Regions from separate parts of the Homo sapiens genome. Here regions 2, 3, 4, 5, 6 and 7 are each linked to region 1. The links come from fine-mapping of genetic effects on gene expression. A gene starts in region 1. Each other region holds a variant in brackets. All regions are shown on one strand. Distances are from middle to middle. Region 1 holds the start of TBCA (tubulin folding cofactor A). Region 2 has its middle 100 kb from the start of TBCA. Region 3 has its middle 70 kb from the start of TBCA. Region 4 has its middle 36 kb from the start of TBCA. Region 5 overlaps TBCA (tubulin folding cofactor A). Region 6 has its middle 25 kb from the start of TBCA. Region 7 overlaps TBCA (tubulin folding cofactor A).

Region 1 (4,068 bases):
CCTCCCATCTTATCCTGTGATTAAGAATGCCTAACCTCCTGGGAAGAGAGCCCAGCAGATCTCAGCCTCATATTACCCAGACCCTATTCAAGATGGAGTTGCTTTGGTTCAAACACCTCTGACACACCTGCACAATTCGAAACTGTTGTTCAAGGGTCAACTGTATACACAGACACAGATAAACTCACAAAGTGTCCTCCAGAGCCTGGGAATGGGCCTGGAAACACACAATGGCAGTAGCAGCAGAGGTCTTTTGGCTGCTGACATTTACTGATTATTGATTTATAGTAAAGGCACAGATACAAATCAATTAAAACAAAGAGAAAGGGGGCAAAAGGAGGGAGGCAGAATTGGGGATTGGGGGGAAATAGCAGGTATTTGTATTGGGAAGCCTAGTTTGAGAGAAACTCCTGCAAATTAGCACAAAACTGAGCTCTGAGCTTCTTGAAACCAAAGCAAAAAAGGAAAATATGACGAGTTACATGGTTTTTGCTACCTAATCAAAGGAAAGACCTTAACGGTAGCAAAAGCCCTAGCTGCACCATCTTTTGGTTTGTGGCTTGTAGCTGCTGTTTGTGTGTGTGTGTGTGTGTGTTTGTGTGTGTGTGTGCATGTCATTTTGCTTTGGTAAGTTTGCTGTTGTGTTTTATCTACCCCTCCCTCCAGTATTTCACAGCGCTGCTGTGTGACTTGGAATTGCACATCAGTATACCAGCCAGCAGAATAAAAATATTTATTGAATTCTGTGCCCATTGTGCACAAAACACAGGTGGAGGAGGTTGGGGAAGGAAGATTTATGGAAGACAAGAATCTTGCCTCTAAACATGTTTATGAACCAGGATTTATAACTACGAAGCTGAACAAAACCCTTACGAAGGACCAAACAATAATTTGAAAAAGAAATATACTAAAAATAATGATGACTACTGGGTGACTCCAAAGCATCCAGGGAAGATTGAACAGGTGGGGTGAGTCATAGTAGACTTTGCTCAGTTTTGATCCTGGATTTAAAGTAACGGCCTTGGGCTGGCGGGATAGAAGGGGATTCCAGGACCAGTCATGAAAGTGAGAATGAGTAAGTCAGGCTAGGGAAGGAAAAAGACAGTCATATGGGTGTCTTTGAAGGATGGTACCAAGAAATTTTAAAAAGGGGGTGGGCTCGGTGGCTCATGACTGTAATCCCAGCACTTTTGGAGGGTGAGGTGGGCCTCACCTGAGGTCAGGAGTTCTAGCCAGCCTGGCCAACGTGGTGAAACCCCGTTTCTACTAAAAATACAAAAAAAAAAAAAAAAAAAAATTAGCCAGGCATAGTGGAACGCGCCTATAATTCCAGCTACTCTAGGGGCTGAGGCAGGAGAATCACTTGAACCCAGGAGGCGGAGGTTGCAGTGAGCCGAGATCAAGCCACTGCACGACAGAGTGAGAATCTGTCTCAAAAAAAAAAAAAAGAAAAAGAAAAAGAAAAGCAATTTTAAAAAGGGCGATTCTGCCCTGTATTCCTCAGGAGATTCTCTTAGGAAGGGACTGCTAGAGCTCACTGTAGATGTGCCTCATTTTATGCAACAAATATATTTTTGAACATATAAAATAGTCAAATGTTGTTCAGCATCTACCATGCGTCAGACAATGAGCTAGGTGTTTTAACCCTTATACCTAATCTGTAAAATGGACATTATTATTTCCATTTTGCAGACTGATCAGCTGCAAGGCTAAACAGCATACGTATCAGTGTTGTCTAGCTAATAGTCTAGCTATTAAAGGGTGGAACCTCGATTGTAAGCCGGTTTGTCTGATTAGGAAGCCCAAGGTTTTGTGTGCGACACACATTCTTGTAAGTTAAATATTTAGGATACACTATAAGTGATCATCTGAAGAAGTTCTGTTAGTCATTTCCTTTGAAAGGCACGTTATCTACAAACCTTCTTGCAGGGATTTGAGGTAAAGGGCAAGGATTTTCTTGACTGCGTGCATGATGGCAGTTTGTTTCACTACACATGCATCACTCTGCCTCATCTGACACCAGATAACGACATCGAAAATACCCTTAATACATTTTTTAGGTCACTCCGTCCATTAAGCAGATAATCCCGCAAAGCAACGTCCCAGAGAGACGTTAGTTTCCCCAAAGGCCCAGGCTGTGGAGACCGGGATAGTGTAACTTGCGCCTGAAGTAAAAAGAGGGGCAGTCCGAGAGAGAGGAGGAGGGCACGTTTCACTACGGGTAAAGGGGCGCACGAGGGGTAAAGGGACTGGCGGGAGCAGGGTACCGCCCTCTAGTAAACCCGCCCCGCGGGGCGTGGCGGGGACGACGGGCCGCGCAGCCTGCGCATGCGCGCCGGCGACCACGCCTAAATAGCCGCAGCCTCTGCGCGTCGCCCTCCACGGTTACCCCGGCTCTCCGCCCCTCCTTCTCGCGGCGCTCGAGGGACCATGGCCGATCCTCGCGTGAGACAGATCAAGATCAAGACCGGCGTGGTGAAGCGGTAAGGAGCCGGGAGCGGCGCCCTGCACCTCCTCTTCGTCACCTCATGGCGGCCCGCGAGGCTGAGCGGAGCGCAGGCCCGAGGAGGCCCGAGGCGGGCTCCGAACTCCAGGCCGCACCCGGGGCTCCGCAGTTGGCTGGGACTGGCAGGGACCCAGCGGGGCGCGCTGACGCCCGAGCCCGCCAGCCTCGCACGCCGCTTCCCGTCCCTCTCCGCTCACTGGCCGCTCTGATTTGCCGGAAGAGTCGGCGGTGGCCCGGTTTCTCGGCGCCCGCGGTGGGAAGGTGGTGGGCCGCGGCCTGCGAGGGCGGGCCGGGCCCTGATCCCGTGCCTCCTGTGTGCGCGCGCCGGCCTCTCCTTGCTGAACTTGGCCCGGGGAAGCGGGATCCCAGCTGTGCTCTCAAATGGGCTTGAAAGCAGGCTCTGAAGTTTAGGGGGATGCGGAGGATCTGGGCCTCGTCAAAAAAGACCGTAGTGGAGCCGTGTGACCTAACATGGCTGGCGTGACTGGCAGGCTTTGAGAACTGGGCCTGAACTTCTAGCACACTCAGCAAACTTATGTGGCCTCACTTTCTCCAGTCAGATTCCCCGAAGCTCGCCCCAGAGGCTGTGAGATGCTGTTTAAATAACTTGTGAACCAGAAGTATCTGAGACAGGTCTTAATTTGGAATGTTTATTTTGCCAAGGACGTGCCCATGACACAGCCTCAGGAGGTCCTGATGACATGTGCCCAAGGCGGTTGGGGCACAGCTTGGTGTAATACGTTTTAGGGAGACCTCAGATATTAGTCAATGGGTAAGGTGTACCTTGGTTCCCTCCAGAAAGGCAGGACAACTAGAAGGTTGGGGGGCATCCAGGTCATAGATAAGAGACAAATGGTTGCATTCTTTTGAGTCTTTGATCAGCTTTTCACTTAATACACAATTTACATGTGAGAGAGGGATAGAAGAATAGTCACTTATGCCTTAGTCGGCTAAATGAATCTGCGATTTTACATACACAGTAGGGCAGAGGAAGCAGTCAGTTACGCATTTGTCTCAGGTGGGTAGAGGGGTGACTTTGAGTTCTGTTCTTTGTCCCATACCTGTGAAGATAAGCTATCAATTTACATTGCCAGGGTGAAATACAACAGAACTGTTTTAGAGTGAAGGTCTTGAGGCCCACAAGGAATTTCCTTGGGGGCAAATTGTCAGGGAGGTATGTAGCTTTTTTTTTTTTTTTTTTAATCTTTGTAGCTATCTTATTCAGGAATAAAATGAGAGGCAGGTTTGCTCGATGCAATTCCCAGCTTGACTTTTCTTTTTGGCTTAGTGATTTTGGGGTCCTGAGATTTATTTTTCCTTTCACAAACTCATGGGTAGTGCAGTCCTGTAATTTGCTTAAATTCCTGTAAACCAAGAAAGTACCTGAGACAGGTCTCAATCAGTTTAGAAGTTTATTTTGCCAAGGTTAAGGATATGCCTGTGACAGCCTCAGGAAGTCCTGATGACATGTGCCCGAGGTGGTCAGGCTACAGCTTGGTTTTATACATTTTAGGGAGACAGAAGACATCAATCAATACATGTACGATGTACATTGGTTTGAT
Region 2 (4,068 bases), 99 kb before region 1:
TTAGACCTGATGTGCTGTAGAAGCTCCCTGTCATGTCCTCAGCCACACTACACAGCAAGGCCATTAAACAGAAATTGACTGCTTTGTTTTGCCAAAGAGAAGAGTACACACAAACAAAAAATAGGCGGGCCAGGTGGTGCATGCCTGTAGTCCCGGCTACTTGGGAGGCTAAGGCGGGGGAATCACTTGAGCCCAGGAGGTTGAGGCCGCAGTGAGCTGTGAGTATGCCACTGCACTCCAGCCTGGGCAACAGAGCAAGACCCTGTCTCAAAAAGCAAAGCAAACAAAACAACAACAAAAAAGTACACATCAACACTGCAAGGGTCCCAACTAGACGAGATGTGGGGCTGCTGAGAGACCAGGGCGAAGGGGCAGTGTGTTGCTCCCGTTCCCAGGCAGAGCATAAAACATGGATCACAGGCATGATTGCTTAGGAGAGCGGCTCCAAGGGAAACTGCTATAAGACACTGTGCAAATCTGTGGTGTGTGGCCATCACGGTGTCAGGATGGGTATTAAAATGTAATTCTTGTAAATGAGAGCCAATTTTGATGCATTCACAGGAGGACCCGATCCAAACACTCAAGCTAACCCATTACCCTGTACGATGCAGACATACAGGCTGAAAATTTTAGTCAAATAAAGCTAAGCTGCCTTACTTGCTGTCAAAAAAAAAAAAAAAAAAAAAAAAAACAAGACTGGCTAAAATGTTATTCTCCCTGTGCCTGTATAAAATATCAACAAAACCAAGTTGACTTTGTTTGGATGGTTTAGATATACTTTCACTTTCGGATACCGTCCACTAAGTCCTTTACAAAGCACATTAAGTTGGCCTTGGTTGATCAAGTGAAATTGCAGATCCACCTTTAGTACTCAATTAGCCAGGGGTTATAGCTCCAAGAATACACAGACATATGGATCAGACATGGGGACTTAAACCTGATTTGGGAGCCCGAAAGAATTTAAAGCCAACTCTATCTCCTGCAAATGTCTGAGGAAGGGCGTGTGGCCAAAAAGGGACAGTCCCTAGAAGCCCTGGATATTTGACCAGCCTCTTTTTGTGAGATTGTGACTCAGTTCTCTGGGGGAAGAAAAAAAAAGGAGGCATAATGCCTGTTACTAAGGAAAATGCCGAAATCATGGCTGGTAGGTGAGCTCTCGGAGTGCGTAGCTTGGTTTCCTGACACGGATCTTCTGCAATTAAGTTGAATTTGGTTGATCAAGCAAAGTTGCTGATCATTCTCTTCCTACCAGGACAAAACAGTAGTCATAATCTCTACTATTTGTTTAGCGCTTTAATTATTTGACAAAGTGCTTTCTGGTAATTGTCTCTCTTAATTCCTATCACAACCCCTGTAATGCCGGGAATGATCATCAGGGCCAAAGCCTGGGGTTTCCAGAGAGAAGGAAAGTGGGTCCCGAGACACACAGTCAGGGAATTACCTGGGTCCTCAAACTTCAGAGCTGGTGCTCCCTTTCAAGTCAACTTGACCCTCTCAAGCCTTCATCCAACAATGTCCTCACTAAATAATTCTAACTCAGAGGGTGTTGTGGTGAAAG[A/C]CTTCCTCCACATTTTACTAGTTCTCTTTATTGACAGTCTTGGCAGCTTTCCATCATGATTTTCTAAATGTATTTCAACATAAAAAGCTCACACAAACTCTTCTCTAGAATAAAGTAAGTGCTGATGTTGATGATGATTTTTCAGCACTTATTTGGGGGACAAATATATTGGTTGCAGGAGCATCCTTCTAATTATTTGGCTGTTGAATACAGCAACTCCCTTGCCAGTGAATGCACTGGGGTATTAGCTTGTGGAGTTGTTGCTCACAGCAGAGGATGTCTGAGACTGGTTAGTTGGTTGACCAGGATGATAGGGAAAGACCATTGTTAGTATGGAAAGTAATGTTATGATGATTTAAGGTATTTTCCTAGTTTATAATTCTTATCCATCCATCTAACAGTGGGCTTCAAAGCTGTATTTGGTGCCCTCCCTTGACTGCAGTGTGTATACTTGTATACCTGTACATTTTGAAAGAAGAGGTTAAGGTAGAAAGCAGGGCACCCCAGATCCACTCTCCCACTGAATAGATCTTCCCACTACAGTCTCCCAGGCACTGCCCATGAGCGCAGAAGGAGAGGAGCCTCTGAACAGGTCCTATCTTCAAACTCACACGTGGTTACAGTGCCTCTCACAGAAGCCAGCTTAGCACTAGATGGGCAAGCACCTCATACCCACTGAGGCAGACTGGATACAGTTAGCATGATTGTTGCTTCTAGTGAGCTAACGCTGATCCTGGGTCCAGGAGAGGCAGAGCCATTTCTCTGGATTTTCCCGTGCTTATTTCCTCACTGCCACCACCACCACCAGCAGCAGCAAGCCCTATCCCTCTGCAGTTTGTCATCATCTTGTTACCATAAAAATCACATCTCAGTTTGGGCTGCAGGGCTCAGAAAATGTACAAGCACCATGTTAAATGTTATGATGTGAAACATCATTTATTTCTTCAAGAATTCAGTCCAGAGCTGGGGCCATGGTTTTGCAAAATTTGTTGTTCTGCCTCCTCCTCTCTCGTTCTTTTCTTCTCCTAAATCTCTTTCTCTTGCTCTCTTTTTCCTATTGACCACTTGTTAAATCTTTTTGTTTGTTTCCCCTCTTTCTCCTGGGACCCTCCGACAGGCAGCCTTGCCAGATTCATTTTCTGATCAAAGCTGTTTGATTTGGTCAATTTTGCCACATTGGAGACGTTCTCTATTACAGAGATAAATAGCTTTGGGCTAACTGTCAACGAAAACTTGTAAGCTAATAAATTATTCCAATTTCTTCTCGCGGATTTCTCTGGAGACAGCCCTAGGAAATACACTTTTTGATTAGTAAATTTCTCTGTGTGTGTGTCTGGACATTCAAATGTGTCGGCTTTGATTAGCACCATTGCTTTTCAAGTCGACGTTGGCTGAGGGGCTGTCAGTTGCAGGCAGCCCTGATGCATAATGCATCAACTGGGCCCAGAAACAGGAGCCTCTTCCAAGTCTGGAAAGGTGGGAAAATTGCCCTAACAACCCCACTGGCCCACTCTGCACCAAAGGGAGCTCAACTTGAAAGTCTTGACAAGACTTGCTTCAGCTGCAGTGGAAGCCACCCACGCTGGGCTGGAGAGACCACGACTGCAGGCCTGCCAAGAACCAAAGCCGCTGCTCCACCTGCTCCACCACCACCTCTCCCTCCCACAGTTTTGCCCCTGCATCCTCACCCACACGCTCCACTCCATCATCCTGGAGTCCCTGGGCAAAGGCCAGCCCCTTCTGGGCAGGCCTAGATTTCCCTTTGCCTCCCCTTGGATTCTGGTTTGCCGTTTGTCTAGTTAAGGGCCCTTGGGTTGTTATAGAAACAATATTTTGGCTATAACAAATCAATCGGTGCGTGTGAACGCAAACATACAGATCATTTATCAATGGCAAAATACCCTAAATTATGACCTTTCTAAAACCTATCAGAAGGGCGAGCGAATGCATAATGTAAATTAAAGTTTGAAGGGTCAGCGGTTTTTACTTTCACTATTCATCTTTCTTTCACCTTATAGGTTTAAGAACAAGAGGGCTGTGTAATTACATTTCAATGGGGTGCAGCGGTTCATTATTCCCAGCTATACCAATCTGCTGCAACATTTCCAATGCAGTCAGGTACATTTTAGCAGATATTAGTTGGTATAAGACCATACTTGCTCTTTGGACTGATAACATCTTTTAATGCATAACAGTGCTATCATCTCAATTTAGAAAAGGCTAAAAGGGTGAGGATTTTTTCTCAGATCAATACAGTTGTTCATATTTTATAAATGTGGTAAAGCCTATCTGGTAATTCTTCCCAGATATGATTTGCCCTTTGCCTCCCAGTTGCTCCCTGTCTCTGATTATCATTTCCCAAAGTCCCCACCACCCCATGTGTTAGGAGACAACATTTTGTGCTGAAGCCCACTGCACTGATGGAAATGGGTAGCTTCCAACAGAAAACCCTTCTGTTGCCAATGATCTGGCTCCAGTGGTGACGGGGCCGCGCTGCTGAGCGCAAGGGC
Region 3 (4,068 bases), 70 kb before region 1:
TTGGTCTAAAACTAAATGTCACTTAATCCTTTCCTATCTGGACAGGACAGTCTGGCTAGAGGCAGAGGGTGAGGAATAGGAGGAGTGAGGTGGGTAGGGGCACAGGCGGGCAGAGTTCTGCTAATAATATGAAGAAGTGGATAAAGGCCGAAAGTACTCTATACATTTAGCCTAAACATAATTCCCCCTACTTTGTAAAGAAAAGAAGAGAGAAAGCACTTATGACTTTCATCATGACCAATTCTCAAATCCAAAAACCATTTTAGGGGAAAAGAAATAATTTTTAAAGAAAACTTATGGTGGCCTCCATACCCCTATCATGGACTAGCCCAGGGGATAATTTAATGCAGTGGACAAAGGGCTAATGGCCGATTTCAATAGGAGCTGCCTCACACTGGAACATCCCGGGGCTGTTCTATTAGCATCAGAAAGGGCGCCAGGCCCTGTTTCCACCAGAGCTATTGTTGCCCGGGTGTGTCGCCAGTCCTATCCTGCAGAAAGCCTTTAGCCCTGATGGCAGATGATTCTCTAAGTGAATAGAGATGAAGGCAGGGATATTAAGTGACTCTATAAAACATCCCGGACACAATTGTGTGATTGATGGAGGACAAAGTGGGAACAGCAGGACACAGGATCCTGGGAGAAGCAGCCTTGTCAATGCGAGAAACCCATCTCTGGAAACAGCTTCTCCTGGAGGAGTTTGCAGTCTATTTGTATGAGTAATCAGCTGGGCCCCCTCTCTGTCAGCCCTGTTTACTCACTGATTTTCTCAACAAGACAACCATTGACACTGGATGGATGGGGCTAATCTGGCGCAGAACTGGCGGCTTCGCAGAGGCTACAGGTCGAAAATAGAGCACGGTGCCAGCTTCACCTCGCCTAATCTAGCAGCTAATATTTATTAGAGCCAATTTATACCGCTGCTCTCTCAAAGAGCAAGGAAGTCCTGGGTGCAATTAATAACATGGGCAATAACCACAGACAAACAAATAAATAAGGGTTTGTGAACTGTTTGGTTGGTTTTAAGGGAGGGTGGGGAGAGGACAGGGTTGGGTTTGCCACCTGGAACTGCAAGGAGAGGAAGTAAAGGTAGCCTTGAAGCCCCTGAAAAGGGGCATTCTCTTTGGCCCCCTCATCCAATCTCAGAGCAACAACTCGGCTGCAAAATGGCTTAGAAACCTGCACAAATGCACGTAATTCCACATTGCATCTAACAGAACTTGTACACAGACACCTGCCCTCGCAGGCAGAGGTGCGAGCGCACACTGCCATTGTTAATATCCAGCTTATGCGCATCCGTACACTGGGCGGAGGGAAACCCAGATCACAAGCCTTGCACTGCACTTAGCAGCCAAGCCCTGCAGCCACCAAGGAGAGTGGCTATCTGGGAGCTACAAACTGGGGAGGTGTGGGAGAAAAGAGAATGAGGATGGGGTACTAGCCGGAGGGACTCCAAGGTCTTGCTTGGAGGCCTCAGGCCCCTCTTCCTAAGATCGATGTTCTAGGATTTGAGAACTGTTTGTACAGATGCTGACAGTTGTTAAGTTTGCAGCGTTTGGATGTTTAACATGATTTTTGCCGGGCCAAGCTGGGGAGAAACAGAAAAAGAGAGTGTGTGTGCT[C/T]CCAATGGTGCCTTGTGGGCCTCAAGTGGGTATAAAGTCACGGACAGGCGTACATTGTAAAGGGATGGTAGGAAGCAGCATTGTTCTTAACCGGGAGCCGTTGCAGCGGGGGCTGCTGCACAAGCGCTGACCTCGCCGCAGCCAAGGCCTGCAGACCGCAGCCTGCCAGGAAGGGAGCCCTTTGCCCTCGCGCCCTGGTCTCCCCACTCGCCCTCCCCGACCCCCTCTGGGCAAGCGGGCGCCCGCGCCTTGCTAATTGCTCGGCTCCCTTCATGCACACATCTCCACTAATTTTACATTTCTCATTCTGCGGGTAGCTGGAAAGCGGCTCAGGGAATACGGTTCCTTCTCTTAGCTACCGCATGAATACAGTAAGTGGTGGCCGTCCAGGCCTCCCTGGCTGGGAGGTTTGGTAAATTAGCAGCTTGGCTGTATAATCAGGCGTTCGCCATTGAGGCCACAGTGCTGTACCCGTTAACCAGGTGAGATTTCATCATCTAATGGGTTGGGAGGTGTGACCGAGCTGCTAAGTTAGCAATTAAACTTCACAAATATCATTGGATTGCATTTTTTTTTTACAGGCCAAAGCCACGTCACCCCAGGCATAAAAGAAGAAAAAAAAAACAAACAACTTTCCAAAATGTACACACTAAGGGAAAATCTTTTGTGAAACACATGAAATGAAAAAACATGGTTTGGTACCTAAACACCATATTTGAATTATATTATCCTATAAAATACAGACCTCGTAGTTATGGTTCTAGGTCTGGAAGGGCCTGTTCTGCCAGCCAGTTCTCCAAAGGCAGGGCAGGATATATAAAACATATTATATTAGGTAATATCTAATATAGGACAGAAGAATCTGGGAAATAATACAGATTTCTTCCTTTGGGCCTATTGTTTTGATTTATTATTTTAGTAAGAATTGGAATCAAAGAGAAAAGGGCAAACACTCAGGTAAAATGTTATTCCAAGCCTGTAACAGCCAACAAGAGCCAGCTCCCCAGGTGCCTGTGGGACCTGAACCCCTGCACCTCCACCTTGCTCTTTAAGGTGTAGCCATATTAGTTGGAGCTGGTGACTGAAATACTTGGTGTACATTAGGAGATCCTACTTAGATTTTCTTCCTGGAAACAAGTAAGCTCTCCTCTTGATGTTGAGAATTCCCTGTGTCTGTAGGTATGTGGGATAAATATGTAGTATCTCTAATAGAGAGAGATAGATAAAGACGGTGCAAGCAAGACCTAGTAGATTCTTCTGAGTGTTAAATGCCTAAATGGAAACATAACAGAAAATATTATTAGCTTTATCTGCCGACACCAGGGACGCAGGTTAAAGTATTTTTCATTTAATTTGATAGAGAATAAAGCACTTAAAGCACTTGATGATTTATTGATCAAATAGAAATCAGGCGCCAGACAACAGCTCCTTACTTAATCCCCATTCACACGATTAAAAGCCAAGTGAACTTTTTTTTTTTTTAACAATTTGCTCAATAGGCTTTATGCTGTATAAAGAATAAAAAGAGAACCGTTCTTCTGACCTATAAATCTCTCCTTTGGCTAATATGAATGACTACGGGGCACGTGAACCTCCATTGAACTGTAAACACTGTTTTAATGGACAGTAATGGCCCTATGATTTTTAGCTATTGTTCCAAAATGACTACCATGTTTATTGCCATCATTAAAAATGAATTAAAGAGTTATGAAACTCCTCAATAATGAGAACTCCGGCCGTTTATAAGCGGTAGCACTCTTTTCCCCTGCTCAGGCGGCAGGTTCTGCCTGTCTAGGCTGGTGCAGGCTGCGGGACACCCACCTGGAGCAGCGGTTTGGGGGAGCGGGGTGGATAGAGTATTTCTTTGGGGGAGAGAGGTGAGGGCCTAGAGGACTGAGAGAGTGGAAGGAGGAGACGACGGGGTAGTGGAGGGATGTCCGGAAAGCCCTGCCTGCTCGGACGCTCCCCACGAGGAGGCGCGCGCGTGGGTAAAGCGGGGAGCCGAGGGTCTCGGGGAGGGCGCGATGTGCCCCCTCCCCGGCAGCCTGAGAGAGGCGGTCTGGAACCAGGACGGCGGGAGGGGGTTGGGGGGTGAGTGGAAATAACAATAAGGAGAATAGGGTGGAGGCTTCGAGAGACATCCACGCGGCTGCAGCCAGGCCGAGAAAGTACCCGGGACCAGGGCGGGGGCGTCCGGGCAGCCGCTCCAGTTCTCCCCACGCCGCGCAGCAGCGACCGTACTCCCACACCACCTCCCCACAGCCCCCGCGCCGCTGGGGGCCTCGCGGGAAAATGGCTCAGCAAAGTTGCGCACAGCCCATGCACTGTTCTCCGAGGGGTCCCTGGCTGGAGCCTGCACGTTTCTCTTTGCATTAGCAAAGCCCAAAGTCATCCAGTTTGCGCTAATCACCACAATTAGTCCTGAATTATCACCGGACTCTGACAG
Region 4 (4,068 bases), 36 kb before region 1:
GAAGAATTCTATCTACTATTTAAACCTGTCTACTAGCTACTATTTTTTCCCTTGGGAATTGATGTAATTTTTAGGAAGCCATAGGAAGATTCTCCAAGAACTGAGAGCCAATTATGATCTAAGAACAAAAAAAGTTAAAAGCCATACATGATAGATGATATTAGCCATCTGGAAACCTCTTTAGGGCTAACATATCTCCTAAATCATTGGAGAAAAAACGTGATCATCAAATTTCATAAATAGGAGGATATTGATAGCCTAAAAGACACACACACACACACACACACACACACACACACACACACACAGAGAGAGAGAGAGAGAGAGAGAGAGAGAGATTTTGGTTGGAAGCCAGAATCAGAATACAGTGGGTTAAGGAGTAAGGGGGAGGTAGCTGCACATGGGAAAAGCAAGGGTAGATGACTTTCCCAAGCAACATGGCCAGGAGCTCTGATGCATTGTTACTGGGAAGGGAAATGGGTACAATCTTTCTAAATGGTAATTTGGCAAGTAAGAGCCTTGAAAATGTTAACATCTTTTGACCCAGTTATTCAACATCTAAGAAATTAGCCTAATGAAATAATCAGATATATGCCAAGATTTACATACCAGGAGACTCACTTAACGAATGTTGCATTTCATTGTGAAATATACCTCATATACAGAAGCATGCACACCACATTTGAGTTCATTTTAAAGAGTAGTAATGTGTCCCGAGTTCGGTCCTTCCGGTGGGTTCTTGGTCTCACTGACTTCAAGAATGAAGCCATGGACCTTCGTGGTGAGTGTTACAGCTCTTAAAGATGGCACAGTCTGATTAAGGACTCCAAGAGCTATTCCTGCTCTGTCTGTGACTTATAAAGAGAAGTTTTGTCCTGTGGGAAGGCTTAAGGCTGGAGCTTGAGTTTGTTCCTTCCAATGCCCAGACTTCAGGGTTGATTCCTTCCTCAAGCATGGGAGAACAAATGGGTAACTTGTCCACCATAGTCATGTACATAATAGCTCCAGCTTTGGCTAATATGTCCCTCCTTAATAAGGGTGTGGGACTTCCAGGCATAACAAGAAAGACATGTGAAAAGAGCAAAGTCTCCCAGTTACAACTGAGGAAGTGAGAGAAACACCTGGTTATAGGCCGTCCCAGGATTCCTTGGATGCTAATGGACCTTGAGGACAGCTGTCCAGGACAGGAGATTAACACTGAGAGAGCCGCACCAGTGTCCAGGAGGAAGTCAATTTCCTGGCCCTCAATGGTTAAACTTATCCAGGGCTCAGTGAGGGTGATGACATGAGCTGGTGCTTGCCCCAGACACCCTCAGTCTTGTTGTTGGATCATCTGGTTGGCGGCTTCTGGCCCAGAGAACCTTTGTCCTCTGGGGCAGTGTGACTTCCAGTGATTGCATCAGCATAGTGGACATGGGTGAGGGGGCAGCTTGTTTCTGTTGGACAATCTTTTTTTAAGGTGTCCTTGCAAACCACACTGATAACAAGCCCTCCCAGGTGATTGGTCTGCTCCATATTCTGTCCTCTCTGAACCAACAAGGTTTGTTTGTCTGAGGGCCATAACTAAGGCTGCAGCCTTTCTCTGATCTCACTTTTTCTTTTCAGCCTGTTCCTCTTGGTCCATATTATAGAACACCAAGTTTGTGAGGTTTAATAATGCCTCCACATTTTGTTCAGGGCCCAGGGCTCGCTTTTGGAGCTTTCTCCTGATATCTGCAGCTGATTAGGTAATAAACTTCTCTCTTAGGATTAATTGACCCTTGAGTGAGTCAGGTGACAGGGGAGTATATTTTCTAAAGACCTCCTGTAGCCGCTCAAGGAAGGCAGAAGGATTTTCTTCCTTTCCCTGAGTTATAGTGGACATCACTGAATAATTCATGAGCTTTTCCTAATTCTCCTTAGTCCTTCTAGAACACAG[G/A]TCAACAGATGTTTGTGACTCCAGTCCCCATGATCTGAGTCGAGGTCCCAGTGGGGATCCATACTGGGAATGACTTGCTGACCAGTAGGGAATTTGTCCCTTTCTTTGGTTATCATTCTATCATTTACTTGATTAAGATACCAGGTATCTCCAAACTCTAGGGCTGCAGCTAAAACCACATTCTTTTCATTAAAGGCCAGGGTTTGATCTAACAATAGCATGACATCTCTCCAAGTGAGGGTCGAAGGTTTGCCCTAGACCCTGTAGGACATCTATATACCTATCAGGATCATCTGGAAACTTCCCCAGATATACCTTGATATGCTTTAAATCAGAGAGGGAGAAGGGGACATGTACCCGGGTTGGGCCAAATTCCCCTCCACCTACAGCTTGAAGGGGACATAACTGATAGCCAAGGGTGTTTTGTGGTCCCTAGGAGATTTCTTTGCTTGTTTCCTTCCGGGCAGGGGAGGTTAGAGGAGGCTTATCATTAATAGGAAGGGGAGCTATAGGAGGATAGGATATGGGGGTAAGCTGAAAGGTCCTCCTGTGGGATGTAAATTGCAAGCTTTGCATAGTTGTGGATTCTCCTTCAATGAAAAGAAAGCTTGGACATAAGGTATTTCACTCCATTTGCCTTCCATTTTACAGAAAAGGTCAAGCTACAGGATAGTATTGTAATTTATACTTCCCTCAGGTGGCCATTTCTCCCCATCAGAGAGAGAATACTGGGGCCAGGCCGCAGTGTGGAAACAAATGAGCCACTGCTTTTTCAGGGTTTGTGGGTCAAATTGGTCCCAATGGCTTAGGATGCATTTCGAGGGTAAGCCTGTTGATGCCAGAATGTTTCCCATCTGAAAGAAAACCCGCCCATGGTTTTGGTTTGTTTACCCCTCTTGCCCAAGAACCCACAACGGTCCCTGGATCCTGCTGATTGGAAAAGTTGCACTCACCGATGCAGCAGCAGAAACCCCTTTTGCCCAAGAACCTGCAGCAGTCCCTGGACCCTGCTCATCGGAATAGTTGCACTCACCAACGCAGCAGCAGAAACCCCTCTTGCCCAAGAATCCACAACGGTCTCTGAACCCACTCATCAGAATAGTTGCGCTCACCAACACAGCAGCAGAAACCCTAATTTTCCTTTAGACCACAAAAAGGAGTGAGGAAGATCGGATTTAGTGGCCCTTACTGACGCACTCTCAAAAACCTGTTAGAGTCCTTAGTGTTCTCCTGTTAGTACTGGGACCTTACCCCTGTCCTATAAAGATGTTATGCCCCAAAAATGAAGTGGAGGGCCATACCCTGAGGGAGGGAAGGGATCTCCAGGGTTGGAAGAGTGTCTTTTGTCCTCATTTCTCATCATATGAATAGGAAGGATATCATTTCTGAGGCTCTCCATATCCTAGCTTCAGGAATAGCTTTTGTTAGGCCTGTTAGTCTGAGGAGGGATCCTAAAGTTCCAGATAGTCCCCCACTGGCTCCTGATGGGGCTTTGGGCAAAAATTATGTCTTTCTGATTGGTGAGCCCAGGTTCCTAAAGAAGGGAACAGAGTGCTGAAGTTTATACTAGAAATCATTCTTATAGGAGAAACTAGTAAAGCACCAGAAACTGGGAGTTGTTTTTAGAAGTGGGACTAGCCTCAGAGAAGAGAGTTGGGAGGAAGTTTGTCTGACAGGCATTAAGACCCAGGAGGCAAGGGTCAGGATAGATAGGATAGATGGATGAGTCTCGGTTGGGTGACGTGACTTTGAGAGTTCTGCTCATGACTACAGGGTCAAGCAACAACCAACTTTTTGTCGGGACCCCGGAGCTGAATGGCTTTCTTCTCTGTCGACCCTTGGTTCAGCCCAGAAGTACAGGAAAAGCGGAATCTGGTTCCAGGAAAATCAACACTCCCAACTCTGAAGAGTCCGGGGTTGTTAGAGAGCCCTTCCCAGAAAGGCTGACACCCATTTCTTTAGTCCGGCGGCCATGCTAGTGGCTTTTAACTGGTTGATAGGTGCCCGGTGTTGAGCCCCCGAATTCTAAGGAAAAATAGGACAGAATAGCAAGTGAAAGAGGTCCAATGGTACTCACTGCTTGGCAATAGTCCCTTCGTGGTCGCCAAGATGTGTCCAGAGTTTGTTCCTTCTGGCGGGATCTTGGTCTC
Region 5 (4,068 bases), 21 kb after region 1:
GTCCCGTTCCTAGGCAAGTAGCTGAATTGGGGTTTTTTTCTGGGCTAAAGTTAAGATGAACAACCAGCTGGCCTTAATTTCTGCTTACCATTAGAGCACTCTGTAATCATATTGTTGGATTTTTTGTTGTTGTTGTTGTTCTGGTCTTTGTCCCATCAGATTTGACCAACTCTACCTGACGTGGTCAGATCTGAATGAGAATTCCAAATTATGGGGAACAAAGCCTCTGAATTGGCTAAAATTCCTTACACTTGCAAAAAGAAAACCAGAATAAAACCAAGCACTTGGTTTCTGTATTTGTTTCCTGTCTTAAAAAAAAATTGTTCTTTCATTACTTTTCTTACACTCTATTGCTCCTTACCCCTTTTGCCATCTTTGGTACCAAGAAAAGGTCTAGAGAAGGCTTTTAATGACTCGAACTCTTAAAGAACTCACAACAAAGGTGCATTCACCTGTTTTTGGGGTGTTCTGTTTGTGGAGTTTCAAGGGTCATGGGCAGATTCTTCTTAGGTCTAACGCTCTGCTTTCCCATATTGCATTACCTGATCTCTTTGGCTTTCGGGGGTTCCAGAGACTACCCTGTACAGTGAAAGGATTTGACCTTGGTGTGTGTAATGGTGGATGAGAACTACAAAGTTAAAGGTGGCTGAGGACAATTTATAGGAAGCAGTCCTAGCTGTTTTTTTTTTTTTTTCCTCTTAGGAAGTTGTTCTTTAGGATGCTAATTCTAGCGGGCAAGATTCTTTAGAAGATTCTAAAGTCTTCATTGCCTTTCCTTCCAAAATTAATCTCCATTGGCTTGTCTGCACATTCACCTGAGAAACTGAAAAGTCATTTTCATAGATAAATGAGAGATTGTGTTTCCTCAGCTCTGAAGATAAAGGTCATTGTGCTCCTCCCAACCAGAAGGTGCCTCTGAGTGACCGGGAGCCCAATGGGAGTGTCTGGGGGGTTTACCCCTTGTGACTTGTGCAGCAGCCCTACAGGGAACTCCCAACACAATTAGTTTAAAAAGGCTTGTCTAGGAAATGCATATAGGAGCTGGTCACTCTGCACTTTGAGCCCTCTGGAAGGTGCTAGACCTCTGGAGAGAAAAATTGAGACGTAGGAGGGTGGAAATGACTCCATGGTGACACACTGTTGAGTCCTCCCCACAATCAGCACACTTGGACCCACTACACGAAATCCTAGGCTGCGGTCTGGTTCCTCCTTTTAAAAAAATGTGACAAACAAATCATCTAATAATGAGGAAAAACAAGGAGAACGACCCCCCTTGGGCAACCCATTTGTGTTTTTTTTTTTGTTGTTGTTGTTTTTTGAGATAAAGTTTCGCTCTTGTTGACCCAGCTGGAATGCAAATGGTGCCATCACTGCTCACCGCAACCTCCGCCTCCCGGGTTCGAGCTATCCTCCCGCCTCAGCCTCCTGAGTAGCTGGGATTACAGGCATGCGCCACCACTCCTAGCTAATTTTGTATTCTTAGTAGAGACAGGGTTTTTCCATGTTGGTTATGCTAGTCTCAAATTCCGAACTTCAGGTGATCTGCCCTCCTTGGCCTCCCAAAGTGCTGGGATTACAGGTGTGAGCCCCTGCACCCGGCCCCTATTTGGTTTTATGGTGCCTCTAGTTGCAAATGGTTATATAAATGGAAGAGCATGCCAGGTTTTCTAATACTCCAGCTAGTTACATATTAGGTCTGTTCTTGTGCACATTTTATTTATTTATTATTTTAAATTTTTATTTATTTTTTGAGATGGAGTCTCGCTCTGTGCCCAGGCTGGAGTGCAGTGTCATGATCTTGGCTCACTGCAACCTCCACCTCCCAGGTTCAAGCAATTCTGCCTCAGCCCTCCTGAGTAGCTGGGATTACAGGCGTGCACCACCACACACGGCTAATTTTTATATTTTTATTAGAGACAGGGTTTCACCTTGTTGGTCAGGCTGGTCTTGAGCTCCTGACCTCATGATCTGCTC[A/G]CCTTGGCCTCCCAAAGTGCCGGGATTACAGGTGTGAGCCACCGTGCCTGGCCTCTTGTGCACATTTTAAACTGATGGGCAAATTACATTGAGGAAGAGTCAGATCCCAAAGGTTAACCTGTAACTATAAAATTCCTAAGTTCTCTGTCTCTCTGCTTTCTTTTCTGCCTGCTTTAAGTCTGCTGCTACTTTTCTACTGAGATAAAATCCACTGTATGAATCCAACCATTTCTTTTTGTTATTGTTTTTGCAAACCAGTGAGTTTGTATTACTATCTCATGGCTAGAGTTCTGAAGTAAAAGCTGTAGAACTTTGTTTTTATGAGTATGTGTGTGTTTATGTATAGCTACATGTATTTTGTTGTGTGTTTTTGGCCGCAAGGTACCAAATTTAGCTAAAAGAGTACTCATAAATTAAATAATAATCCCAAATACTTTTCAAGTTCACATGACTGAAGTAAAATATTTAATAATGTAACTTTTAAATTATTGGTAAAATAATATTAGAAATGTCTTAAGAATTGTCAGCATTTTTGTTTGCATTTATTGATGAAACAATTTCATTTTTATCTCTGCCAAATACTCTAAGGTTTAAAAAATAAACCCAGCCAAAACCAGAATGATCTTTGGTTGTGTAATTTTTAATAAGACATTAATATTGGTTTAATGAAAACAGCTATATCTTGAATTACTGGTAAAATAACCCTGTATATAATCTTAAGGTTCTTACTTAGGTAATCACCCAAAATTCACAGGATATAAAAATGGTTGACAGGGAAATAACTTTACATGATGACTGTCACAGTTTTCATAAATAATCTAGGTAAACTGTTAAGTAAATGTAGTGGAATAAATACTTGTAAATAAACTTGTCATAAATTAGAATCTAAAGTTATACTGAATATTTCATTAAATGTCTGGATATTTTTCAATTTAAAAAACGCATTGTAGGAAAACATTCTAAAAAATATATTCTTATTAAAAGGTAAATAATTTGTCTAATTCAAAGCTTATTTAAAGGTTATGTATAAAACAAGGTAAAAGGGACCAGGAAGTAAGAGAGATGTAAAGAAAGTTATAGAAATAAATAGGTATTTTTGGTAAGAAAGGTTAAAGAAAAGTAATTTTATGTGAGAAAGAGTCTTGTATGGTGAATTTTTATCCTAAAATAAAATGACTGGGTTCTTCAAGAAAGAGAAATATTCAGGACAAGCCATAGAGTCCAGACATGCTGTGAATGGTCTAAGTTTTAATAAGGTTAATAAAAAAGGAATTTATACAAATATTATGTGACTGGCTGGGGGCAGTGGCTCACACCTGTAATCCCAGCATTTTGGGAGGTCAAGGTAGGTAGATCACTTGAAGTCAGGAGTTCGAGACCAGCGTGGCCAACATGGTGAAACCCTGTCTCTACTAAAAATGCAATTAGTCGGGTGTGGTGGTGCATGCCTGTAATCCCAGCTACTCATGAGGCTGAAGCAGGAGAATCACTTGAACCCAGGAGGCAGAGGTTGCAGTAAACCAAGATGGCACCACTGCACTCCAGCCTGGGCAACAGAGCGAGAATGAAAACAAACAAAAAATATTATGTGATTAATTGGCTATAATTAAAGGAAACTATAATAGTTTTTGTTAAAATTGAACTTTGATATTAAAAATACCCTAATACAGAATTAAATAATTGGTTAAAACAAGATGTCATTAAAAATAGTTACTCAAAGCAAGATGTTTTTAATTTTTAAATTCTGTAATCTGTCTCATTTTGAAGTTATTCACGATATCTCAGAAGCTATACCCTGCTGCCTTACCTCCTTCTCTCTTTTATGAAGGCCTGGGATGGTAACTTTCTGCTTCAGCTTTTGTTGTAACATTTTTTAAATTAATGGTTTAAAGTAAGGGAGGGAATGTTTTTAAAAAAGCAGGTGAAAAATGTTGGATCTGCTTTTGTCTGCATGTCTCTTATATCTGTATATGTGTCAGGAGAAAGTGATACTTCACTATTAAACTGTGTGAAAGAGCTCTAATCAATTGACTTAAAGAAAAGTAAGGGCTTGCCATTCTGATAGAAGCTAGCTCACATGCCTTTTAATTCACA
Region 6 (4,068 bases), 24 kb before region 1:
CCATAATTTACATTAGGGTTCACTCTTGGTGTTGTACCTCCTATGAGTTTGGACAAATGTATAATGACATGTATCCATCATTATAGTAACATGCAGAATATTTTCACTGCCCTAAAATATCCTCTGCACTCTACTTATTTATCCCTCCCCATCACCCAATTCTTGGTAACCACTGATCTTTTTAGTGTCTCCATAGTTTTGCCTTTTCCAGAATGTCATATGGTCATAGCCATTATGCACCCTTTTCAGATTGGCTTTTTAACTTAGTAATATGCATTAGAGTTTTCTTCATGTCTTTTCATGGTTTCATAGCTCATTTCATGTTAGCATGGAATAATATTCCATTGTCTAGATGTACCACAGTTTGTTTATCCATTCACTTACTGGAAGACATCTTGGTAGCTTTCAAGTTTGGGCAATTATGAATAAAGCTGGTATAAACATTTATGTAACAGGGTTTTTGTATGGACATAGGTTTTCAAGCCATTTGGATAAATATCAAGGAGTGTGATTGCTAAATTATACGGTAAGAGTATGTTTGGTTTTGTAAGAAACTGTCAGTGTCTTTCAAAATGGCTTTGCCATTTTTGCATTCCTACCAGCAATAAAAGAGAGTTCCTGTTGCTCTACATACTCATCAGCATTTGATGTTGTCAATGTTTCAGACTTGAGCCATTCTAACATGTGCATAGTGGTATATCATCATTGTTTTAATTTGCAATTCCCTAATGATATAGACTGTTGAATATATTTTCATATTATTTGCCATTTGTTTATCTTTTTGGTGATTTTTAAATTGGGTTCTTCCATTTCTGCCCATTGAAATTTTTTAACTCATTGTTGACTTTTAAGAGTTCATTGTATATTTTTGGTAAGAGTCCTTTATCAGATGTGCCTTTTATAAATATTTTCTTCCAGTCTATGGCTCATCTAATTATTCCCTTGACATTGTTTTTCCAGAGTAAAAGTTTTTAATTTTAATGAAGTACAGCTTATCAAGTATTACTTTAATAAATCATACCTTTGATGTTGTAGCTAAAAAGTCAACACTATGCCCAAGGTCATCTGGGTTTTCTATTTTCTAGGAGTTTTATAGTTTTGCATTTTTCTTTTGTTTTTGAGATGGAGTCTCACTGTGTTGCCCAGGCTGGAGTGCAGTGGTGAGATCTCGGGTCACTGCAACCTCCGCCTCCCAGGTTCAAGTGATTCTCCTGCCTCAGGCTCCCACGTAGCTGGAATTTTAGGTGTGCGCCACCATACCTGGCTAATTTTTGTATTTTTAGTGGAGTCAAGGTTTCGCCATGTTGGCCAAGCTGTTCTCGAGCTCCCAACCTCAGGTGATCCACCTGCCTTGGCCTCCCAAAATGCTGGAATTACAGGCATGAGCCACCGTGCCGCCCAGTTTTGCTTGTTTCTAGCTTCTAGGAGTTTCACACTTTGTTCTATGATTTTTAAGTTAATTTTTGTGTTAACTCAGAACACACAAGAGTGCAAGTTCTGTGTCTAGATTAATTTTTTTTTATTTTTGGATGTCCAGTTGTTTCAGCACCATTTTTTGAAAAGACTTTTTGTTGCATTGTACTGCCTTTTCTCCTTTGTCAGAGATCTGTTGACTATATTTAGGTAGATTTATTTATGGGCTATTAGCTAGGTCTATTTCTGTTCCTTTGGTCTCTTTGTCTATTCTTTTGCCAATACTACACTGTCTTGATTATTGTAGCTTTATAGTAAGTCACGAAGTTGGGTAGTGTTAGTCTTCTAACTTTGTTCTTCTTCAATATTTATTGGCAATTCTGGTTCTTTTGCTTCTCCATATACATTCTCTTTACAATCAGTTTGTCAATATCTATAAAATAATTTGCTGAGATTTTGATTGAAGTGGCATTGAATCTATGGATCAAGTTAGGGAGAACTTATATCTTGACAATATTTGGACTTACTATCCATGAACATGGAATATATCTCTATGTAGTTCTTTGATTTCTTTCATCAGAGTTATGTGGTTTTCCTCATATTAGTTCTTGTACATATTTTGATAGGTTTATACCTAAGTATTTCATTTTTAAGGGGTGTTAATGTAAGTGATACTGTGTTTTCAATTTCAAATTCCACTTATTCCTTACTAGTATGTAGGAAAACAATTGACTTTTGCATATTAACCTTGCATACTGCAATCTCTAGAATCATTTATTACTTCCAAGAGCTTTTTTTTTTTTTTT[G/TG]GTCAATTCTTTTGGATTTTCTACATAGACAATCACGTCATCTAAACAAATATAGTTTTATTTCTTCCTTTCCAAACTGTATACATTTTCTTTTCTTGTCTGGTCTCATTGCATTAGCTAGGACTTCTAGTATGATGTGGAAAAGCAGTGGTGAGAGGACACATCCTTGCGCTGTTCCTGATCTTAGTAGGAAAGCATCTAGTTTCTCACCATTAAGTATGATGTTAGCTGTAGGTTTTTTTTGTGTCTATTCTTCATCAAGTCAAGGAAGTCTACCTCCATTCCTAGTTTACTGAGAGTTTTTATCAGGAATGGGTGTCAAATTTTGTCAAATGCTTTTTCTGCATCTATTGATATGATTTTTTTTAGCATGTCGATGTGATAGATTACATTAGTTGGTTTTTGAATGTTGAAGCAGCCTTGCGTAACTGGGATAAATCCCACTTGGCTGTGGGACATAATTCTTTTTATACATTGTTGGATTCAATTTGCTAATATTTTGTTGAGGGTTTTTGCATCTATGTTTATGAGGGATATTGGTCTGTAGTTTTCTTTTCTTGTAATGTCTTTGTCTGGTTTTAGTATTAGGATTGTCCTGGATCCACAGAATGAGTTAGAAAGTAGTTCCTCACCTTCTGGTCTCTTAAAGATATTATAGAGAATTGGTATAATATCTTTCTTAAATGTTTGATAGAATTCACCAATAAACCCATCAGAGCCTTGTGCTTTCTGTTTTGAAAGGTTGTTCATTATAGATTCAATTTTGAAAATAAGTACAGTCCTATTTTAATTGTTTGTTTTTTCTGAGTGAGTTTTGGCAGATTGTGTTTCTTAAGGATTTGGTCCATTTCATCTAGGTTATCAAATTTGTGGGTATGGAGTTGTTCACAGTATTTCATGATTATCCTTTTAATGCCCATGGGATCTGTAGTAATGCCCCCTTAACCTATCTTTTTAAATAAAAAAAATCTATCAAAAGTGCAGAATGTTTTAATAATATAATCAAAGTAGGAGTAAAAATAAGAATCGAACTTGAATGTTTTGGGAGCTTTCTGTGTGTTAGGCACTGTTCCTATCAGTACGTATATGGACTACTGCTTTTAATCCATATAAAGCCCCATCAAATAGGGATTATTGTCCCCAATCTAAAGAAGAGAAAACAGAAAGATTCAATAACTTGTCCAAGACTGTATGTCTTGGACACATAAAACTGTAACTAACCACATATTAACTACATGAAAAGATATGCTGACAGAAGGCTGGTCTCAGCCAGGAGCCAAGAAAAGAGGAGAGAAAGATTGAGACTTGGGGGGACTCTGCTGGCTCTATACACATGGTGAGGAGGCTTACTAGCTGATGTGAGCATCTGGTCAGTTTGCCTAGTACATCTCTCTAATGGAGTCAGATATGTCAGACAATTGTGCTATGAAGCTCAGACAACCAACTCTCCCACTCTCACTTTATGACCATCAGCCACCTTCTGACTATCACATTTTCCTACAAATGAAGGAATGCATACACCAGTTTAAACATTTATGTAGTAGTATTTCTCACTATAAATGAACACTTTGGCATTTGGGATTGTTCAATGGTCCCATGTAAGTTGGATCATGTGAGTCCATCCATCTGAGCTTTGTCAGTTCTTGATGTTCTGACAAACTTGAGTTTCTGCGCCTAGAGAGCTGAGGACCAAATCCTGGACTAAGGGGGCTCTTTCAAGGTAATGCCCTAGCAGCCCTACATGAGGCAGCCAAATCGCCTATCTGCTATCTTCATCTTGCTTAATTTAAATGCAATGATAATAAGTTGTTGGGATGTTCTGTCAGTTATTAAGTTTTCATCTCTCACA
Region 7 (4,068 bases), 85 kb after region 1:
ACCTACAAGTTCTGCCATCTTTGAACGTCTCACAGAGATTCTCATTCTAGGCAGAGATCCTACAAGAATCCAGGATGATGATCCCAGATTGCCAGCGCAGGTTGGAAGCCGCATATTTGGATCTTCAACGGATACTAGTAAGCAAAGACTTCTGTGTCATGTTTAAATTTTTTTTTTCAATCCAATACATGGAAAGCCAAAAGTTTAAATATTTAACACTGAGAACTAGTTGGCAGTATTTCTTATTCACTTGCCCTTTATACCGCTATATTTTAAAATAATTAATGGAGTTTAAATTGTGTTTTGAATTATGCCTCCAGTAAAAGTACTGTTTTCTAGCATGTTTGTTCAGTTTATTAAAATTTAGCTAGTTAAATTTATTTAAGTTATGATAGTACCAGTATTGTCCAGCAATGTCTTGATTATTTGGTTTTCATACATAAAGATCTTTTGAGACATTGAGGATGAGTTGACTGATTAAAATTTTAAAAGATCTAATGTTTCAAAAGAATTTGGGATCTTATTAAAAGGATCTTGAATTCTTTCACATTCAAACCTAGATCAGTTTGAGAGGGGGAAAAAACCTGGTAATCTATGTAGTCCCCTCATACTAACTTGGAGCTGAATAACACTTATACTTGCTGGTATAAATGCCTTGTGATACAGAAGGTAGATAAAGCAGGAAATAATAACTGTTAAAATACTATCTAAGACAGGAAGCATCATTTGTATTTCTTGACAGTTTAAATGCTTTTTTCTCTCATGAATCTAGTAGCTGAGAAAGTAATAGAAATTGCTTGGAAAAAAATAATGTTGGCCGCCAGGTGCAGTGGCTCATGCCTGTAATCCCAGCACTTTGGGAGGCTGAGGTGGGTGGATCACGAGTCAGGAGTTCAAGACCAGCCTGACCAACATGGTGAAATCCTGTCTCTACTAAAAATACCAAAATAATAATAATAATAATAATGTATTTGGATGATATATTTGTATGTGAAGATGTATTCAACAATATCTCTGCCCTTGAAGAGCTTGTATTTACTAACAGAGAACAAAGATGTGTTTAAGGTATAACATGGAGGTTTAAGAAATTCTTACGTATAGTTTGAGCTAAGCAAATTCTCAGTCGTTTTGCTTTCAGTTTTCATATTAAATACACACATACTTTATTTCCTCTACTGTTTGTATATCTCCATCTTTTATTGACCTGACATAAATTGCTAACCATAGCTTCATTTAAAAATCAAACAAAATTTCCTGTGTACTTTAGATAATATTATTTCATTTGTCTGTTATCATTACAATATATTAGTAAAAGTTGCCTGTATATCAGTATTATGGAAAAACTCAATCTTTAAATATCAGAAAATGAAAGATGTATTTTGTTTCCTTTAGTGTAGGGTATGTAATACCCATTAGCAAGCAGGCAATTCATTTGTTTAATTCAAAGATTATATTTAACTCTGTTGTGACATCAGAAGCCTTCTTTGTCATTGTGAATAGTCAGTGGATTATTTTGGCCTGAATGCTGTCATATATGTAACATGTTAGTAAATCTTCCTTTTTACTTTTCTCTTTTGTATGATGATGATGGGTCAACAAAATGAGAATAAACTTTTTCTGAGGTTTTTATTTAATTAATGCTGGTAGCTTTAGAAGACTGTTATTCACTTATTTTATGAGAATATATACAGTGAAACAAAACCACCAGTTATTTCTTCCTTTCCTTGTAAAGAAGGAACAGAATGTGGGAAACCTGTGGAATTACAATATATTTAGATGAGGCTTGGGATTTTTTACTTTTAATTTTTTAGTTATTAACATTAATGGTTTGTAATATTTGAGTAAATAACAAAGTACTGAAACTTGAAAAGGATAAACTTAATTTTTATTGTATTTCATTTTAGGAAAATGAAAAAGACTTGGAAGAAGCTGAGGAATATAAAGAAGCACGTTTAGTACTGGATTCAGTGAAGTTAGAAGCCTGAAACTTTTCTCGTATGGGGTGGTTTTTGCATTAAATCCTGGGGTCCATTTTACAATCCATTATTTTTGACCACTGCTATGTGTTCAAGTAGTATGAGAATGTGATTGTTTTTATCTGGTTACATATATAT[T/ATT]TCTTTGTCTAATTTAATATGTCAAATAAATGAGTTCATCTAATAAAATTGTTTATTTTATACTTTACAAAATTTTTAAATTAACCTTTTATCATTAAACCACATAGACTTTATGACAGAGAACTATAATCTGTTAGGTTCTATTCGAAGTCTACATATTTTGCTTCACAAGCATGGATTGAGTTTTAAAAAATAGAATACCATTTTTTCAAATAACAATCCAAATTTTAGTTGGGTGTAGTGGTACATATCTGTATTCCCAACTACTGGGGAGGCTGAGGTGGGAGGATTGCTTGAGCCCAGTAGTATGAGGATGCAGTAAGGTATGATTATGCCAATGTACTCCAGCCTACGGAACATAGCAAGACCCTATCTCTAAAAGATTGAATTGTAAGCAGTTTATTTGGAATAGAATACAACTGATATAAAAGGAAGAACTCTCTTTGGGGAAGGTCTCACATAATAAGGCCTTCACAGTGAAACTCTAACATTTCCATGACTATAAATGAATGAGAAACATTTAAATCTTTTTCGAGGACAGATTCACACAGAAAACACCCCCAACCATTTAGATCTTCAAATAAGATTCTTATGAACAATGAAGAGTTGAATGGTATTTTGAAACAATAATGGCCATTGCCAGTGAAGTGCTGGCAAATATTTAAAGACTCTTCAGAATAGGAGGGGAACCTCTGATTGGTAGCTTTTGCTGATTTCTGTGGTATAAATACTCCTACCTTTGACCAATTTCAAACTACTAATATGACATCACTGAACACAGAGTTATGAAAATTTGGGCCAGCTCCACCATAATTTGGCTGTAGCCAATCTTGATTATCTAGATTGACTCGGGGGGGAAAAGTATCATTTTGTCAGAAAGCATTTTTCCAGTACAATTGTGACCCTGTTACCCAATCACTTGAGTTTATTTTCCAAAAATACAAGACAACTCATTTAGATTTTTTATATTTCCAGAAAATGTGTGTGAGCCTTATATCACCAGCCTAATGGGCATTGGTGTAAGGAACCAAATATCTATATATAGCATTTAAATTTGAAAAGTCAAAATTGGAAAAAAAAAACTTGAATTTTTGCTGCATTAAATACTTACAGTGTTATTATGGTTGGTATGATTTTGGAAGTTGTAGATAATCACTAGAAATCATAACATTTATTGAATCTGTCCAAAGATCAGAAAAGAGAAAAATAATTATTTTTTCCTAAGTTATTCTTAAAGGTTCTGTTGTTATAAAGCACAGATTATATCACTTATAAAATAAACTTAAGCCAGGCGCAGTGCTCACGCCTGTAATCTCAGCACTTTGGGAGGCCGAGGCAAGTGGATCACCTGAGGTCAGGAGTTTGAGACCAGCCTGACCAACATGGTGAAACCCTGTCTCTACTAAAAAATACAAAAATTTGCCGGCTTGGTGGCAGGCACCTGTAATCCCAGCTACTTGGGAGGCTGAGGCAGGAGAATTGCTTGAACCCAGGAGGCAGAGGTTGCAGTGAGCCAAGATCATGCCATTGCACTCCAGCTTGGGTGACAGAGCAAGACTCTATCTCAAAATAAAATAAAATAAAATAAAAATAACCTTATTACACATGCCAAAAATTACTTCTTCAGAGAATAACATATATCAGAAGCATTTCTAAATTGGAATGTCATCCCAAAACATATTACATGCCATTTTAAAAGTATTTGAGGTGGGAAAAGGAAAAGTTGAGAAAATAAAAAGTAATTATAGTGTAAAACTTGATATTAAGGTTTAGTGTTAGAGGTTTGAACACCAAGAGAATTAGATTATTTTGTGGTTGCTATCAAGTACCAGAGCAATAGATTGGCTTGGGAAGGGGTGGGTGGGTGGGGGCGGGTGCGGGGGAAGTGCCAATTAGTTTTCCAAGTAGTATTTCATTTACAGAAACTATTTTGGTATTTTTTTTAATGTATAAC

Evidence for each region. PIP is the estimated chance that this variant, and not a neighbour inherited with it, causes the effect.
Region 2: its variant is fine-mapped to the expression of TBCA in whole blood (TOPMed, PIP above 0.99).
Region 3: its variant is fine-mapped to the expression of TBCA in whole blood (INTERVAL, PIP above 0.99).
Region 4: its variant is fine-mapped to the expression of TBCA in whole blood (TOPMed, PIP 0.98).
Region 5: its variant is fine-mapped to the expression of TBCA in esophagus mucosa (GTEx, PIP 0.94).
Region 6: its variant is fine-mapped to the expression of TBCA in monocytes after LPS (Kim-Hellmuth 2017, PIP 0.95). The same link has a PIP of 0.9 or more in monocytes and monocytes after triphosphate RNA.
Region 7: its variant is fine-mapped to the expression of TBCA in whole blood (TOPMed, PIP above 0.99). The same link has a PIP of 0.9 or more in blood mononuclear cells and lymphoblastoid cells.

The regions. Positions count from the first base shown.
Region 1 is chr5:77,774,620-77,778,687 of GRCh38, reverse strand. It overlaps TBCA (tubulin folding cofactor A), which reads left to right and starts at 2,349. Exons shown (of 4, transcript NM_004607.3): 1 at 2,349-2,483. The coding sequence starts at 2,431. RefSeq lists silencers at 2,203-2,462, 2,583-2,752 and an enhancer at 3,770-4,068.
Region 2 is chr5:77,874,039-77,878,106 of GRCh38, reverse strand. No RefSeq gene overlaps it. Among named protein-coding and RNA genes, the nearest start is that of TBCA, 100 kb to the right of the region's middle. The variant A/C (reference allele first, on the strand shown) is at 1,559.
Region 3 is chr5:77,844,560-77,848,627 of GRCh38, reverse strand. No RefSeq gene overlaps it. Among named protein-coding and RNA genes, the nearest start is that of TBCA, 70 kb to the right of the region's middle. RefSeq lists enhancers at 41-989, 1,716-2,300, 1-2,709, 3,195-4,061. The variant C/T (reference allele first, on the strand shown) is at 1,623.
Region 4 is chr5:77,810,447-77,814,514 of GRCh38, reverse strand. No RefSeq gene overlaps it. Among named protein-coding and RNA genes, the nearest start is that of TBCA, 36 kb to the right of the region's middle. RefSeq lists an enhancer at 3,725-4,068. The variant G/A (reference allele first, on the strand shown) is at 1,919.
Region 5 is chr5:77,753,256-77,757,323 of GRCh38, reverse strand. The region is part of intron 1 of TBCA (tubulin folding cofactor A); the gene reads left to right. Among named protein-coding and RNA genes, the nearest start is that of TBCA, 21 kb to the left of the region's middle. The variant A/G (reference allele first, on the strand shown) is at 1,975.
Region 6 is chr5:77,798,901-77,802,968 of GRCh38, reverse strand. No RefSeq gene overlaps it. Among named protein-coding and RNA genes, the nearest start is that of TBCA, 25 kb to the right of the region's middle. The variant G/TG (reference allele first, on the strand shown) is at 2,220.
Region 7 is chr5:77,689,335-77,693,402 of GRCh38, reverse strand. TBCA (tubulin folding cofactor A) reads left to right here. Exons shown (of 4, transcript NM_004607.3): 3 at 51-137; 4 at 1,905-2,237. The coding sequence ends at 1,985. Among named protein-coding and RNA genes, the nearest start is that of OTP, 53 kb to the right of the region's middle. The variant T/ATT (reference allele first, on the strand shown) is at 2,115.